Linked DNA regions of Homo sapiens: region 2 is linked to region 1. A link means that fine-mapping ties the variant in region 1 to the expression of a gene that starts in the linked region. Tissue or cell type: whole blood. Region 1 holds a variant in brackets; the other region holds the start of a gene. All regions are shown on one strand. Distances are between the middles of the regions.

Region 1 (8,106 bases):
GATATGAAATTCTGGGTTGAAAACTCTTTTCTATAAGAATGTTGAATATTGGCCCCCACTCTCTTCTGGCTTGTAGAGTTTCTGCTGAGAGATCCACTGTTAGTCTGATGGGCTTCCCTTTGTGGGTAACCTGACCTTTCTCTCTGGCTGCCCTTAACATTTTTTCCTTCATTTCAACTTTGGTGAATCTGACAATTATGTGTCTTGGAGTTGCTCTTCTCGAGGAGTATCTTTGTGGCGTTCTCTGTATTTCCTGAATCTGAATGTTGGCCTGCCTTGCTAGATTGGGGAAGTTCTCCTGGATAATATCCTGCAGAGTGTTTTCCAACTTGTTTCCATTCTCCCCATCACTTTCAGGTACACCAATCAGACGTAGATTTGGTCTTTTCACATAATCCCATATTTCTTGTAGGCTTTGTTCATTTCTTTTTATTCTTTTTTCTCTAAACTTCCCTTCTCGCTTCATTTCATTCATTTCAGCTTCCATCACTGATACCCTTTCTTCCAGTTGATCGCGTCGGCTCCTGAGGCTTCTGCATTCTTCACGTAGTTCTCGAGCCTTGGCTTTCAGCTCCATCAGCTCCTTTAAGCACTTCTCTGTATTGGTTATTCTCGTTATACATTGGTCTAAATTTTTTTCAAAGTTTTTAACTTCTTTGCCTTTGGTTTGAATTTCCTCCTGTAGCTCAGAGTAGTTTGATCATCTGAAGCCTTCTTCTCTCAACTTGTCAAAGTCATTCTCCATCCAGCTGTGTTCCGTTGCTGGTGAGGAGTTGCATTCCTTTGGAGGAGGAGAGGCACTCTGCTTTTTAGAGTTTCCAGTTTTTCTGCTCTGTTTTTTCCCCATCTTTGTGGTTTTTATCTACTTTTGGTCTTTGATGATGGTGATGTACAGATGGGTTTTTGGTGTGGATGTCCTTTCTGTTTGTTAGTTTTCCTTCTAACACACAGGACCCTCAGCTGCAGCTCTGTTGGAGTTTGCTAGAGGTCCACTCCAGACCCTGGTTGCCTGGGTAACAGCAGCGGTGGCTGCAGAACAGCGGATTTTCATGAACCGCGAATGCTGCTGTCTGATCGTTCCTCTGGAAGTTTTGTCTCAGAGGAGTACCCAGCCGTGTGAGGTGTCAGTCTGCCCCTACTGGGGGGTCCCTCCCAGTTACACTGCTCGGGGGTCAGGGGTCAGGGACCCACTTGAGGAGGCAGTCTGCCCATTCTCAGATCTCCAGCTGTGTGCTGGGAGAACCACTGCTTTCTTCAAAGCTGTCAGACAGGGACATTTAAGTCTGAGGAGGTTACTGCTGTCTTTTTGTTTGTCTGTGCCCTGCCCCCAGAGGTGGAGCCTACAGAGGCAGGCAGGCCTCCTTGAGCTGTGGTGGGCTCCACCCAGTTGGAGCTTCCCGGCTGCTTTGTTTACCTAAGCAAGCCTGGGCAATGGCGGCCGCCCCTTCCCCAGCCTCGCTGCCACCTTGCAGTTTGATCTCAGACTGCTGTGCCAGCAATCAGTGAGACTCTGTGGGCGTAGGACCCTCCGAGCCATGTGCGGGATATAATCTCCTGGTGTGCCGTTTTTTAAGCCCGTTGGAAAAGCACAGTATTCGGGTGGGAGTGACCCGATTTTCCAGGTGCCGTCTGTCACCCCTTTCTTTGACTAGGAAAGGGAACTCCCTGACCCCTTGTGCTTCCCAAGTGAGGCAATGCCTCACCCTGCTTCGGCTTGTGCACGGTGTGCTGCACCCACTGTCCCGCGCCCACTGTCTGGCACTCCCTTGTGAGATGAACACGGTACCTCAGATGGAAATGCAGAAATCACCCGTCTTCTGCGTCGCTCATGCTGGGAGCTATGGACCGGAGCTGTTCCTATTCGGCCATCTTGACTGCCCTTATCCTATATGTATTCTATATTCTGCTTTTTCAGTTAAATTTTTTAAATAAACAGTTTTCCATAATCTTTATTATGGATAATAACATCCATAAACTATGGACATGTAATACTCCAACAGTAGGAAATAATTATAATTTACTTAGTTATCTCCTTTGCTTGACTTTAAGGTTGGTTTTTTTTTTTTTTTTGAGACAGCATCTCCCTCTGTCACCCAGGCTGGAGTCCAGTGGTGCAATCTTGGGTCACTGCAACCTCTGCCTCCTGGGTTCAAGTGACTCTCCTGCCTCAGCCTCCCAAGTAGCTGGGATTACAGGCACCCGTCACCACACCCGTCTAATTTTTATATTTTTAGTAGAGACGGGGTTTTGCCATGTTGGTCAGGCTTGTCTTGAACTCCTCACCTCAGGTGATCCACCCGCCTTGACCTCCCAAAGCGCTGGGATTACAGGCATGAGCCGCCGGCCCCAGCCTTAAGATTGGTTTTCTAAAAAGCATCAGTAAGTACTTAGATAAGGAAACACCACTTTTTAAAGCATTTTATGTTTGCTTATGGAATTATATGCTTTTTTACAGTTCCATTTATCTTTGCTTTTCACCCAGTTGCTCTTCTAGGTGTTGTGCCCACCTCCACCCTTCCTGTCAAACCCTGCCAATGCCTCAAGGCTTTGGAGGAAACGGACACAATGCTTTCCTGACAGTTCTCACTTAGTCTATGAACTCTATCACCCTATTGTCCCTGCCCAAGGAGGCATGCTGTTGATTTTTGTTGGTTTAAGCTTGTCCTCAGCAGAAGCAGGCTGATTCCCAGAAAGTCAATTCTGCTGAAGCCAGTTTGTGAATGACCACTTCTTGGAATGGCAAGGTGACCTAAGGTCAACCACAGCAAACTAGACTGAAGGCTGTGGAATATACCAGACTTTGGAGTCAGATACATGGAACGTCAAACCTGGGCCCTTCTCCCAATGCCCCTGGAATTGATTACTCTATGGTCTATAGGCAGAAAACCTGACCTCTCCAGCCTGAGTTCCTTCATCTTTGAAATGGGTGCCTAGAGAGCGTTTTGGAGATAAAATGACAGCATGCACACAAAGGCCCTGATGTGGGACCATCGTGGTAAGGCATGATGGAGGGTCATGAGATGCCTTCTTATGCTCTGGAAAATGGTGGAAGGAATCACATGGTTGGCAAAAACATATGAAATTCTACATCTGAATCTTGGTTTCTTCTCTCTTTTAAAATCCAGCTCCTCACAAGTCTATTTTTTGAAAGAACCAGCCTCCTTTTCTTCTAAATATTCTAAATATATGAAATCCAACCAAAGTTTCAAAACACACTTTTGTGGTTGTTCTTTCACAGGTGTTAAAGACAATTGGATAAGATATCCTGCCAAGAGCATCTTAAAAATACCAGGGTAACTTCTTTTTTTTTTTGTTATGGAAACTTCCCACACACAAAAGTAGAGGAAATGGTATAATGGACCCACTGTATTCATTCTCCAGCTTTTATCATTTTAAATATTTTTCCATGTTGTTTTATCCATCCCCCTAGATATACCCTTCATTTTTCTTTTTGCTGGATTATTTGAAAGCAGTCCCTCACAGTGTTTTATATTATCCATTAAATACTTTGGC[A/C]TGTATTTCTAACAGTTAAGGAGGTTTTTTTCTACATAACCACAATGCTATTATCACACGTAACAAAAGTATCAATAATCTCAGGAGCATTTTAAAAATAGTGTTCTGGAAAAAGCAAGCCAAATAAGTGAGTAATAGAGAATTTCAAGCCCTATGGTAAGAGGTTTGGGAAGATGCTTTTGGCAAAGGGGGCACTTTCATTTTTGCAAATGACATCACAGAGCCAGATGTCACTTTCTCCTACATATCCAAAATTGGATTTACTTTCTTACCCCTGAAATGTATTCTCTAGTTCAGTGTAAGGCATCAGTATCCACCCAGGAGCTTAAGCCAGAGACTCAGAATTCTTGTAGAGTCTTTTCTCTCCCTCCTTTCTCTCTTACCCCTCCATTTAACCAGTTTTTTAAAATCGTGATAACATTTAACACGAGATCTACCTTCTTAACAAAATATTAAGTGTACAATACATTATTGTTGACTATAGGTACAAGGTTGTACAACAGCTCCCCAGAGCTTATTTATTTTGCTTGACTGAGACACAATGCTCATTGTTAGTGATTCCCCATTTCCTCTTCTTCCCAGCCCTGGCTACCACCATTCTATGATTCTATTAATTTGAATCATAGATACTTCATCTTAGATATTTCATATAAGTGGAGTCATGCAATATTTGCCTTTCAGTGACTGGCTTATTTCACTTAGTGTAATGTCCTTAAGGTTCATCTGTATTGTTACACATTGCCAAATTTCCTTTTTAAGGCTGAATAATATTCCGTTGTATGTATGTACCACATTTTCTTTTTATCCATTAATCTGTTGATGGACATTTAAGTTGTTTTCACATCTTGGCTATTGTGAATAGTGCTGCAGTGAACATGGGTATACTAATATCATTTTGGGATCCTAATTTCAATTCTTTTGGATAAATATCCAGAAGTGGGATTGCTGGATCATATGGTAGTTCTATTTTTAATTTTCTTAGGAACTTCACACTGTTTTCCATAGTGGCTGCACCATTTTGCATTCCTACCAACAGCATATGAGGGTTCCAATTTCCTCCACATCCTCACCACCACTTGTTATCTTTATATATATAACAACCATCCTAGCAGGTGTGAGGTGGTATCTCATTACGGTTTTGATTTGCGTTTTTCTGATGATTGGTGATGTTGAACATTTTCTTATACCTGCTGGCTATTTGTATGTCTTCTTTGGAGAAATGTCTATTCCAGTCCTTAGCCTATTTTTAAAATTAGGGGTTAGTTTTTTTTTAATTACTGCTATTAAATGTAGGAGTTTCTTATTTTGAAGTTCTAAATCTCAGAGTGAATATTTCTCATAGCAACCCCCTCTTCTCCATTCCTACTTCTGTTCCCTTTGTCTAGTGCACATTATCCATCTCGGCACAAAGTACTGAATGGTGTTTTTTTTTCTTTTTTAAATGAGGCTTTTATCATGTTGGCCGGGCTGGTTTTCAACTCGTGGCCTCAAGTGATCCACCCACCTCAGCCTTCTAAAGTGCTGGGATTACAGGAATGAGCCACCACACCGGCTTCTGAATGGTCTTTATCTGGCTTCCTCTGGAAACGAAACCTGAAACATGGATTCTACTATAAATAGTTCATTTGAGAGGTGATCTCAGGAATCCCTGGGAGCTGATTCAGGGAGCAGGACAGGGAAGTGAAAGAAGCCAATAAAGGATGTGTTACTAAGCACTGCCGAGCTCCATGCCACTGAGAAACTCCACTGGAGCTCCACCTCACTGAGAAACTCTGAGACACAGAGTAGAATACGACTTAAGAGTTATCCCAACCAACAGGCAAGGAAGCTGGGGTGTTTACCCATCAACTCTCCTGTTCCTCATTGTTTGAGGGCTGATCTCAGGGACATCAACCCCCCAGCACATCTGGCCTGCACTCCTGCACTGTGTATGGGCTATGCATGCTGCCAAGCCAGAGCACAGAGGGTCACAGGCCTTGGGGGTGTGGGGTGCATACTAATTGGACGTGGGCGGGGCACTGACAGCACCGCTGCATTGCCTCCCTTCTCCCTTTCCCGACAGAGGCCTGGGATAACTTCCCGAGGTGCAAATCTGATTATGACACTCCTCTAGTCAATAAAAGCATATGTGGATGATGCTAAAGACCTACCTTGCTTATTTCACCTGATGCAGGTGACTGGAGTGGTGCCAAGCCATCTGACCCTGGGCACCTTTGGCATACCTTCTGCAGGTGGTCAAAGCTTGGACTGGATTTTCAGTAACGTGAATTAAATGGATAGATAGCTTTATTCATATATTTATAATTAAAATCTGTTTATTTGCAGAACAGGTTGGGAAGGGAAGAGATAAATGATTGCCTGTGGTTTGGGGCCCACTGGTGCAGCCCATCTCCTCTCAACAGCTTTGCTGACCCCTTCTCGACAGTGCAGAGCCTCTCCCCTGTGTTTCTGTCACTGCACCAAAGCCACTCGTGGCAGCACCTTGTTCTTCTTTATGCAGTCACATTATCTGGGAATCTCAATGTGATTTGCAAGCTTACATAACTTCCCAAATGAGTCAGCATGCTCATCAAGAAGGCAGCATGGTGTCGTGGAAAGAACAAGGCATTTGGTGCCAGATAGAACAAGTTCAATTCCTGCATCTGCCACTTCCTAACTGTGTGTCTACACAAGTTATTCTACCTCCCCCAGCCTGTTTCTTCCTCTAACAAATGGAGATGAGAATATCTACCTAGGAGGGTTATTATAAGGATGAAGGGAGGTAAGGAACACTCAGAGTGTGATCAGTGTTTGCTTCTCCCATCCTATATCCTGATTTACACATCTAGCAGCAAATTCTTGAACCTTACTGACATGTAGTGAGTAGAAAATGCTGATTTGTCTTTGTCTGCTTTTAGCACCAGTTAATTTTTGATGAAAGTTTAAATCATGTATTTGTAAAGGAAAAATTGGTCTTGCTCTACTCTGGGCAAAGCAGGCACAGTGCGTGTGAAATAAATCAGCACCAGAAAGGTCTGTGGTGCTCTAGGTAGGGCTGGGCAGGCACAGCCTGGCTCAGGCCTGGCCGGACTGCAGTGGCAGCCAAAGATCACTAGCTTTCAGAGGAAACTTTGGGAGCATGCAGTAAGACAGACAGCCTGAAAAACAAAATATCCAAGAGAGGATGTGGGATCCAATCCGAATAGCTGCTTACCACAGTGGGGAGCGGTTAGGAATGGCATGGTAGAATGCCTTTTGCCAGACAAAGCAGCAGCATACGAATGAGGATGCTGCTGTGCTGGTCAGGGCTGGGGATAGTTCTGGAACTGTTTTTCCTAAGCGGTTAAAGCAAATGCAAGCTTAAAAAAAAAATAAAATCCCTGATCAGCAAATAAGTACTGCTACAAATGTTCTTCCCTGCTGGTCACAACACTATTAGGGCAGGAGTAGCAGACAAGCTCATTTCCAGGATCTTTACAGCCAGCATAATACATAGCTAGCAGTCAGCTGGGGGCAGCAGAGAGAATATTTATAATTTAGAGATGATTGGTTTGCATGTCCGTGGAGCAAAGAGGTAGCTAAAAAAGTAAAGCAAGAGCCGATCTTTAAACTCAGACACCCCAGAATGTTAGAGCTGGAAAAGATCTTTCAGATCATCTAACTGTTCTGGTGATTTTTATATACTAACAACAGCAGAACTTTTCTTTTAAATAAAATCTTATGCAGACTCTCCCCTTTAAAACAAATAAAAGGAGAGCTGCTCTGAGTAGGGGAGGGAGGGAGACAAGGGGGCAGTGTGGTTCTGGGACGGCAGCCTCTGAGCCTTCACTGTAGGTCTCCAGCAGTAGCCCAGAAATACGTCATGGAAATCCTGAGGCCCCACTGACCACAGCTTAGAAACCCCTCATCCAGTCTTAGGCTCACAGAGGGCAGGTGACTGGTCTAGGGTTACTGAGCAGAATTGGGACTAGAGCGCAAACCTCTTGATTTTAAGTTCCTTGCTCTCTGCTAAAAACCATCTCTCCTTCAGAAAAAAAAAAGTATCTGTAAAGATAAAGTTACCTCGTGAAATAGCTTATTAAAGTAAATGAGAAAGCCAGAGGCATCTGAGTGTAAACACTGGCTTTGAAAAGGATCCAATTTTATCTTCTTCTCTGCTGGACCCAAGGGCAGCTTCTTACTACATTTATTTTTAAGGCTTTTAGCGTAACAGTCACAAAATCCAAGGAGATTTACTAAATTAACGGTCACTTAAGCCAGGACGAGTCTAACCAGTTTGTACCTGTTAGAAAACAGAAACTTAAAATAATAGCTTAGTGTTAGAAAAAAAATTATTTTTACTATATTGGCACAATAAGAAAGGAAGGTGAAATGCACGGCAGATGAAGGGGCCAAACCAGAGCTCTCAGGCGCTGGAGCACGAAGCATTTCAGACTCTTGCCTCCGTTTATCGTTTGTGAGAACTCAGACAAGTCACAACGTCTCTGGACCTCAGTGTTTTCAATCTATAAAATGATTAAATCATTAAGGCTATTAAAGGTCAGTATGCAACAGAACTCTGACATAGAACTTCCCAGTGAGCAGGGTCAGCTGGTGCTGTGCCTAATTAACATG
Region 2 (8,106 bases), 110 kb before region 1:
CCTCAACCTGATCTCACCTTAATGAACTGATCCACTCCTCCCCACTCAAAGCTACATATGCCAAATTAAACATGAGATGATTGTCATGTCTTCTGTTGGCAAAACAAGTATTTGTCTTTCATGTATTGCTATCATTTTTATTACTGCCACTGTTTTTCCCCTGGGTTCTGTTTTTAATCCAAATATATTTATTTCTAACCAGTGCCTTGCCATCTTACACACAGCCCCCTCTCTAGTACTGTGTTTTCTCAGCTGGCTAATCACTAAGCTTTACCGAGGTCATCAATAACTAATGACAAAGAATGGAACCCCTAAACTCCAACCAAGGTGTAAAACCTCGCTCAGTACCATCAAGTATATCAGGTAATCTCTCCGTTCCATCTTTTTCTCGGAGACATCTGTCCTGGAGTCCTCTGATGCCTAACTCCGTTTTGGAGTGATTACTCTGTAGACCTGTCACACCCTGCTTCACATTACCTTGTAGCAATTCCTGGATGTAATGTTTTCCACTTTCTATCCAACTCTTACTCTATGGGACTTGGCTCAGACATAGTCTTCTCTGGGAAGCCCTCCCTGGCTCTGCTCGTCTGGGCTACGTGCCCACTAGTGCTTCCCCTAGATCCCTGGGCTCTTTCCTGTCAGAGCACTTACACTATGTTGTGATGGTTTTCAAAAATTGTTAAATAAATGAATGTATAATTACATTAATTAAAATGGAAAGCCATTAGACATAGAATCAGAACTTATCTGTAGCTGTGTAAGTTATTTATTCTCCAATCCCAGCAGGACATGATGGCTTATGCCTGTAATTCCAATACTTTGGGAGGCTGAGGCCAGAGGATGGCTTATGCCTGGGAGTTAAAGGCTGCAGTGAGCTGTGATGATGCCACTGCACTCCAGCTTGGATGACACAGCAAGACTCTGTCTCTAAAAAAAAACATTAAGTCAGGTGCAGGAGTTCACGTCTGTAATCCCAGCACTTTGGGAGGCTGAAGTGGGAGGATTGCTTGAGCCTAGGAGTTCAAGTTCAGCCTGGGCAACATGACGAGACCTCATCTCTACTAAAAAATTTTTAAAGTAGCCGGGTGTGGTGGTGTGTGCCTGTAGTCCCAGCTACTCAGGAGGCTGAGATGGGAGGATCGCTTTAGCCCAGGAGGTTGAGGCTTCAGTGAGCCATTTTTGTGCCACTGCACTCCAGCCTGGATGACAGAGAACCTGTCTCAAAAAAAAAATTAAATAATAAAATAATATTTTAATATCCCCTGTGTGTATTCTCTCCTTTTAGAAGGAATCCCTAAAGTTTAGTGAAAGATGTATTCAACTTTAAATATTTTCAAGCCCCTCAAAGTAATTTTAATCCAGTCAAGGAACTGTTAACACTTTCTTACCCCTTCAGAAGTCTCTCATACCTTAGGAAAGAACTGAAACACTTCTTAAATCTGCCTTCACAACTGGTTCAATGGAAGTAACATAGAAAGTTTGTTGAAAAATAAGGCAGTAAAGATTTCCCTTTGTCTTTTATTAGCTCCCATTTGTTTATCTAATGACCAACTGCTAACTTCCAAGATCAATAGAGATTGAAGGCCCAAGGTACTCATAAACTTAGATACACAGGAGATATTTTCTTCGAATTCAGTTTCAGAGTCTGCATGTTATAGGAATAGTGAAAACTTAGCCTCAATAAAGCTAGGGCCTCCACCTACCTTCCTCCTAGGTTTGCATATGAATTCCAGAATAGTTTATATAATGCCACAATGCCATCTGTCTATGCTGACATATGCTGAGGTTTCCTATCAGCTGCCCGGTCCGTAGGCATCAGTCCACATGGTTTGCTACCAGCATGTTTCCTATCAACATGTCCCCTTTGGTCTGGCCCAGTCTGTGCTAGCACCTCATACACAGGCAATAATTCTGCTGCTACTGCAGTATGCTGGAGCCTGGGGACCCTTGGAGGTTGTTTAAGCCCATTTATCTAAAGCAGAGGGTCTCAAACTAGCAGCCTGTGGCCACTTCAAATATGCACATGTTTTTCAACCTGCATGATTATATCAGTTATTTATCACTGCTTAACAAACCACCCCAAAATTTAGTAGTGTGAAATACACCATTCTATTTGTTCCCAATTCTGTGGCTCAGCAGTTCGGGCCAGATTTAACTGGTGGTTCTTCTGCTGGTCTTGCCTGGGATCACACATGTTCTGCAGTCACCTGGCAGCCAGACTGCCTCATTCACATGTCTGGCAGTTCCTGTGGGGCTTGCAGGGCTGTTGCCTGGACCTCTGGAGGCCAGCCCAGCTTCTCTGCACTGTGGTCTCAGGCTGCAAGAATGGGCCCTGTCCTAAGGCACAGGCATGTTTCAAACTCTGTGTCATGTTTGCTACTAGCCAAAGAAAAAGACCCTACCTCTTGATGGGAGGAACAGCAAAGTCACATTCAAAGGGGCACACATACAAGGATAGGAGGAATTGGAGCATTTTTTGCCATCTACCACAGGGTGGTTTCTCTGTCTCTCTCACTCTAATTACCAATGGTTAAAAATTGGAGCTTCATCTTATCTTGAAAAATCAGCTAGCCTACTTTATTCACTTACACTTCCTCCCTCATCTGTTGGCATTTGAGTTGTGATAATGCCTAATTTACAAGATTGTTTTTGTGAAGTTAGATATGGAAAAATCTGACAAAAGCAGAAACTCAATATATGTTTTCTCCTTTCTGAACACCACTAGTCATGAAGCTGCTACCTGCCAATGACCAAGGAGAGCGGCCAAGATGAAGAACAAGGGAGTCATAGAGGAGGTGGCTGGAGAATAATCCCTTGGTCTGTTTTAGAAGTATAGAGGCATTAGGAAACAAAACTCTTAAAGAATTTATAAGAAAACTAAACGTACTTTAAGAAATTAAAAGGAGCAGTAGGAAACATATCAGTTTGCTCTAAGTGAAATATCTCAGGCTCTGAATGGTTCACCCAAGAACCTGAGCTCATTCCTGGGAGGCACCTGCAGAAAACTGGTTCTGGTCCTGGTCCCTGTCTTCAGGTGGCTGTGTGTAAACATCTTACCCCAGTGTACACATCTGCAGCTGGTAAATGCCTGGGGGTTTTCTCACTGCTCTCCAGGAGACTCAGCACTGCCCTGTTCCTTCCTAGCCTGAGTCAGGACTGAGCAGAGAATCCTCCACCACACACAGCAGGCACTATCTGCCACAGTTCCTTTCCCCGATAGCTTCAAATTCTCTGCCTTTTGAAATAAGCCTACTTTTAACTGGAATAAATAATTGGTCAATCTCTACCTCAGGTGAAGAGGAACCAAGCCTCTGGAAACACTTAGGAACAAACTGTAAAAACCAAAGGCAATTGTGTAACCGGTTAAATAAGCTTGCTGGACTTTGTCCCTGTGTATGAGTTAGACAATTCTTTCAGCTAGTTTGAGTGACGCACTGACCAGTGAAGCGCAGTGAAGCAGTGGGAACCGGAATATCCAAAGAGTGGTTTGAAGGAGAAAGAAGCATTGTGGCTTTATATCCTCTGGGCCTGGGTTTCCTGAAGTCACCACACATAGAGGAGAGAGAAAATGGCTGAGTTAAAGGTAAGAAACCATCTGACAAGTTTGCTATGGCTTCTTCAGCCAAAATTTATGGAAGTTTCTGAGAACTTCAGGGTATCAGAGTTGGAAAAGACTTAGAGAGGCCCTGGTTCAAACCCCTGTGTTCAGAGGCTTCCCTGTGGTGTCTGTGGGCACAGCTGGAGCTGAAGAACAAGGGAAAGGTGATAAAGGAAAGAAATGAAGCTCTTATTGGTCATCCCTTGCCTTTGTTCATTTCAATTATTGTCTTGGAAATCTGTAGACATCCTAAGAGCTCCCCTCCACTACGGACATGCACGTTTCTCTCTATGTCTTTTTCCCAACCCCTGCTCTGACACCTTCCCATTGCTGCAGCCTCATGGACCACTTCCGGTGACCAGTTAGATATGCTTGATCTATTTAGTTAATTAAGGCTCTGAATCAGCCCTTGGCCAGAAGAAGCACCTCCTCTAGGAAATCATTCCTTCTTTTTAGTAATACGCAATTGAAAAGTATGTGTGGGTTATGTGCTGTTAGGTGCTAAGCATTTTAGCTATGAATTAACTCATAATCCTCAAAATAAATCTGGGGTATAGAGAGAGGTTCTTGTTTCAATTAGAAAAGTAATGCTTGGAGAGACTATGATTTGCCCAAGGTCACTGCCAATAGATGACTTGATTAGAAGCAGGGTATGTTTGAATGCGAAGTCCAGGCTCAAAAAGGGGCCTTAGTGGCTCCTACTAGACTGGTATCTTAAGGCAAGGAAAACAGAATATGTCCCTAATATCTAAAACCATGCCTAGTGCCCAGGCCAGGCTTGAATCAATGCTCAACGCATGCATGTGTAACTGAACAGAACTGCCCAGAACCTTGGCTCAGGCCAAGTAGGCCAGACCACCCCACAACAGACATCTTCCCTGAATGCAGGGTTTGAGAAGTGCCCTAATGCCCTCTAACTGATGCTGAGTTTGAAGAATCCATCAGTTAAGGGGAGGTGTTTCTGAGTTTGAAGAATCAAACACCTTCCTAATTGGTAGGAATCCTGAAAACACTCCACACCGGAGTAAAAGACTTTGGTTTTTTATCTTTATGCCTGACTAAAAGTTAACTCTCATTCTTTCATTCAGCAAATATTTTGTGCTAGTGCATGACACTGCAGATTAATATCGTAGATGAACTGAGTCTGGGCTAGGTAGAGTCAAAAAAAAATTTCCTAAAGGAGCCTGTACCTAAACTGAGTCTTCAGAGAGAAGTTGGAACTGGCAAAGTGAGGAAGGACGGGGTCTGGAGGGAAGAGTGAGTGCAAAGGCACAGCACATACAGAATGCCTGCATGCTCTAGAATCCAAAACTGTGTCAGCCAAATTTGAGTTGATGGAGGGACAGCCAAACTGAGATACCCAGGCGGTGGTTGGATTTATGGATCTGGATTTCAGGGGAGTGGGCAGGGCTAGGGGAATAGAACTGAGGGTCATGATGTCAGTGGTAGGAGTTGAAGTCTTGGAAGAAAGAGTAGATAGAAACTTTGTTTTCTGATGAACATTCTATGAGGAAGTTCAGCAGAGGTTGGAAACATCTTTACCATTTATAAATAAATTTTATGTAAAATCCTATCCTGCTGTCATGTTTAAGCAACTTATTATGCACAGCACCAGGACATCAATGTAAATTGCATGCCAGTCTTTGCTCTCAGTTTCAAAGGCATTCTTCCCTGCCTGCTGTCTAATCTTTACAAAGAAAGGTTAACTCCAGAGGTCAGGAATCTGAACACAGAAAACCAGATTGCATCATATTCATTCTAATCAATAAACATTATATAATTTTTAAAACTGTTTCTCATCTTTTATTTCTTCATTTTAATGAATATGTCAACACAAAGCCGTAAATGAAATCACATTTACACAAAAGTACAACTGGGGTAAGAAAATTCAAAAGATAAAGTAATAAAATTAAATTTAAAATGAAATACCCTATGTATTTGAGTAAGTTGCTTAGCTTCTCCCAACCTTGGTTTCCTCATTTCTAAAACGAAGAACTTGCTTAATATTCAGGCTCTGGGCCCCACCACCAAATCCTTGATTCACTGGCTCTGGGTCTGTATGTAACAAGCTTCTGGAGTGATTCTAATGATTAGCCAGAGACAGGACCTACTATTCTACGTAACTGATTTCCTCTTGCTGCTGTAAAAAATTACCACAAATTTATTGGCTTAAAACAACACAAATGTATTATCTTGAAGTTGTGGAGGTCAGAAGTCTGAAATCGGTTTCACTGGGCTAAAGTCGAGGTGTCAGTGTGGCTGTTTCTTCTGGAGACTCTATGAGAGATTGTGTTTTCCTGCCTTTTCCATGGATTCTGTTTCCTCTTCTAGAGGCTACCCACATTCCTTGGTTTGTAGCCTCTTCCTCGATCTTCAAAAAAATGTATCTCTGCTTTTGTAATCACGTCACATTTTCTCCTCTTATAAGTCAAATCTCCCTTTGCCTCCCTCTTATAATGACACTTGTGATTACATTTAGGATACACCCAAATAATTAGGATATCTCCCCATCCCAAGATCCTTAATTATATATGCAAAAGTCTGTTTGGCTAGAAAAGATAATACTCACAGGTTTCAGGGGTTAAGCCATACATATCTTTCAGAGTGAGCCATTAGCCATTATTCAGCCTACTGCGATAATGTGCAAGTTCCCTTTACAATCTATGTTCTATGTTCCCATCAAGGTTAATTAGAAATATTAGACTCTTTTTCCACAGAAAAAAAAAATGTAGCAGTAGTTTCATCTCTACCCTGACTTCTCTCTCTTTCCTTCATGCCCAGTAAGAGGAAGTGAGGTGCACCATCTGTTCATCTCATCAGGTGTTACCTAGAATCAGAGTCAGGAGAAAGCACCTCATAAAACTACTCTGACAAGTAAACCATATCCTGGGGACCAGGTGAGAATTAAAAAGCTGTATACTCATAAGCTGCCAAAGAGCTGATGGTACTGAAGTCACATGGAGCTCAGGAATTTATTCTTGCATTTAGAAAGTATGCATATAATTCTCTCGAAAAGAAATGAAATCATATTTTTCTGTCGGATCAAATTATTCAGAAATCCGAACTGTAGAAAACATACAAACACACTTGCTTAATGTTAGCTTTTTAATCTTATTTTTGTACACAGTATACTTTTACATAGGCACTGAACCAGCTGGAAATGAATGCTTGGATTTTCGCAGCTGATAAAAGCAGAGTTCAGATTCTGTCCTTGAGCTCAATGTCTGGAGAAAGCAGCTGTGAATACTGCTTCCTTAATTCAGATGCCTTTGGCCGTGAGGGGCATGGCATTTTAAAGCTGCAATAAACTCTGTACTTTTTCTCTCAGGGGATTAGAAAAACCAATTGATTTGATAGTGACTCAGCAGTTTTCACCTTCCTCTTTAGCCAATGCCCTGCAGCTAAGATTGAGAAACGGATTCAGAACTCACACCTCTTGGTGCTTGGTGGCTCCCTTCCAAACCATCAGCTGTTCTTTCTACTTTCTTTCCTATTTTTTAAAGCACAGTCTGAATCAAGTGCTTCAGAACCATTTATACTAACTCGTGTTCCAAACACATAACCCTGAACCCTCTTCTAAGGCCACCAGTTACAAAGAATGGGGAAGGTTAATGAGTAACTCCACCAGTGCCTGCCAGAAAGCTCAGCTGTACTCCAGCCTTCCTTCCTCTCTTGCAGAGAGAAACAATGCGGCAGTTGAACAAAGCGAAGGCACTGTAATGCCCAGTGGCTTCAGTCACAGGCTGGTCTAAAATTCCATTTCACAGAATTGAAGATAATTTGGGGTTATTACCAATTCTCAGCAGCTCAAATTCAATCCCGTTGATGGTGAGCATGGGGTTCATTTTGAGAGTAGAAAATTGGATGCAGTGGAGAATCAGAATGTTGGATGGTCTCTGCCATTTCCCCAAAGATATCATCCTAACTGCATGCTGCTGCTTTTAACAAATCAGTATACAACTTAGTATTTTTTGTGTTGACAAATTTTCAAATATACAAAATATTGAGTCTGAAGGCAAAAAGAATAATTTTTCACTTCCATTGCTTCCTAGGTCATAACATTCACATCTGATATTTCTTCCAAATACAGACTGTTGTTGGCCTGATCATCACTCACACATCCAGGCTTGTTACATCTCCACGCCACTGAGTATCAGGGAACCTGCCCCAATATTCACGTAGGTTCTTTTCTATTTTCCCTAAGCGTCGGCCAACTTTAGAAATAAAGGGACAGAGTACAAAAGAGAGAAATTTTAAAGCCGGGCATCCGGGGGAGGCATCACATTTCGGTAGGTTCCGTGATGCCCCACAAGCCACAAAAACCAGCAAGTTTGTATTAGGGATTTTCAAATGGGGAGGCAGTGTGCAAATAGGTGTGGGTCACAGACATCAAGTACTTTACAAGGTAATAGAATATCACAAGGCAAGTGGAGGCAGGGTGAGATCACAGGACCACAGGACCGAGGCGAAATTAAAATTGCTAATGAAGTTTCGGGCACCATTGTCAT

The links. PIP is the estimated chance that this variant, and not a neighbour inherited with it, causes the effect.
Region 2: it holds the start of HGD, and the variant in region 1 is fine-mapped to the expression of HGD in whole blood (INTERVAL, PIP above 0.99).

What each region holds. Positions count from the first base shown.
Region 1 is chr3:120,566,792-120,574,897 of GRCh38, reverse strand. No RefSeq gene overlaps it. Among named protein-coding and RNA genes, the nearest start is that of NDUFB4, 25 kb to the left of the region's middle. RefSeq lists a cis regulatory region at 2,560-2,780. The variant A/C (reference allele first, on the strand shown) is at 3,514.
Region 2 is chr3:120,677,574-120,685,679 of GRCh38, reverse strand. It overlaps HGD (homogentisate 1,2-dioxygenase), which reads left to right and starts at 3,441. Exons shown (of 14, transcript NM_000187.4): 1 at 3,441-3,583. The coding sequence starts at 3,569. It overlaps RABL3 (RAB, member of RAS oncogene family like 3), which reads left to right. Exons shown (of 8, transcript NM_173825.5): 8 at 1-742. RefSeq lists an enhancer at 7,723-8,106.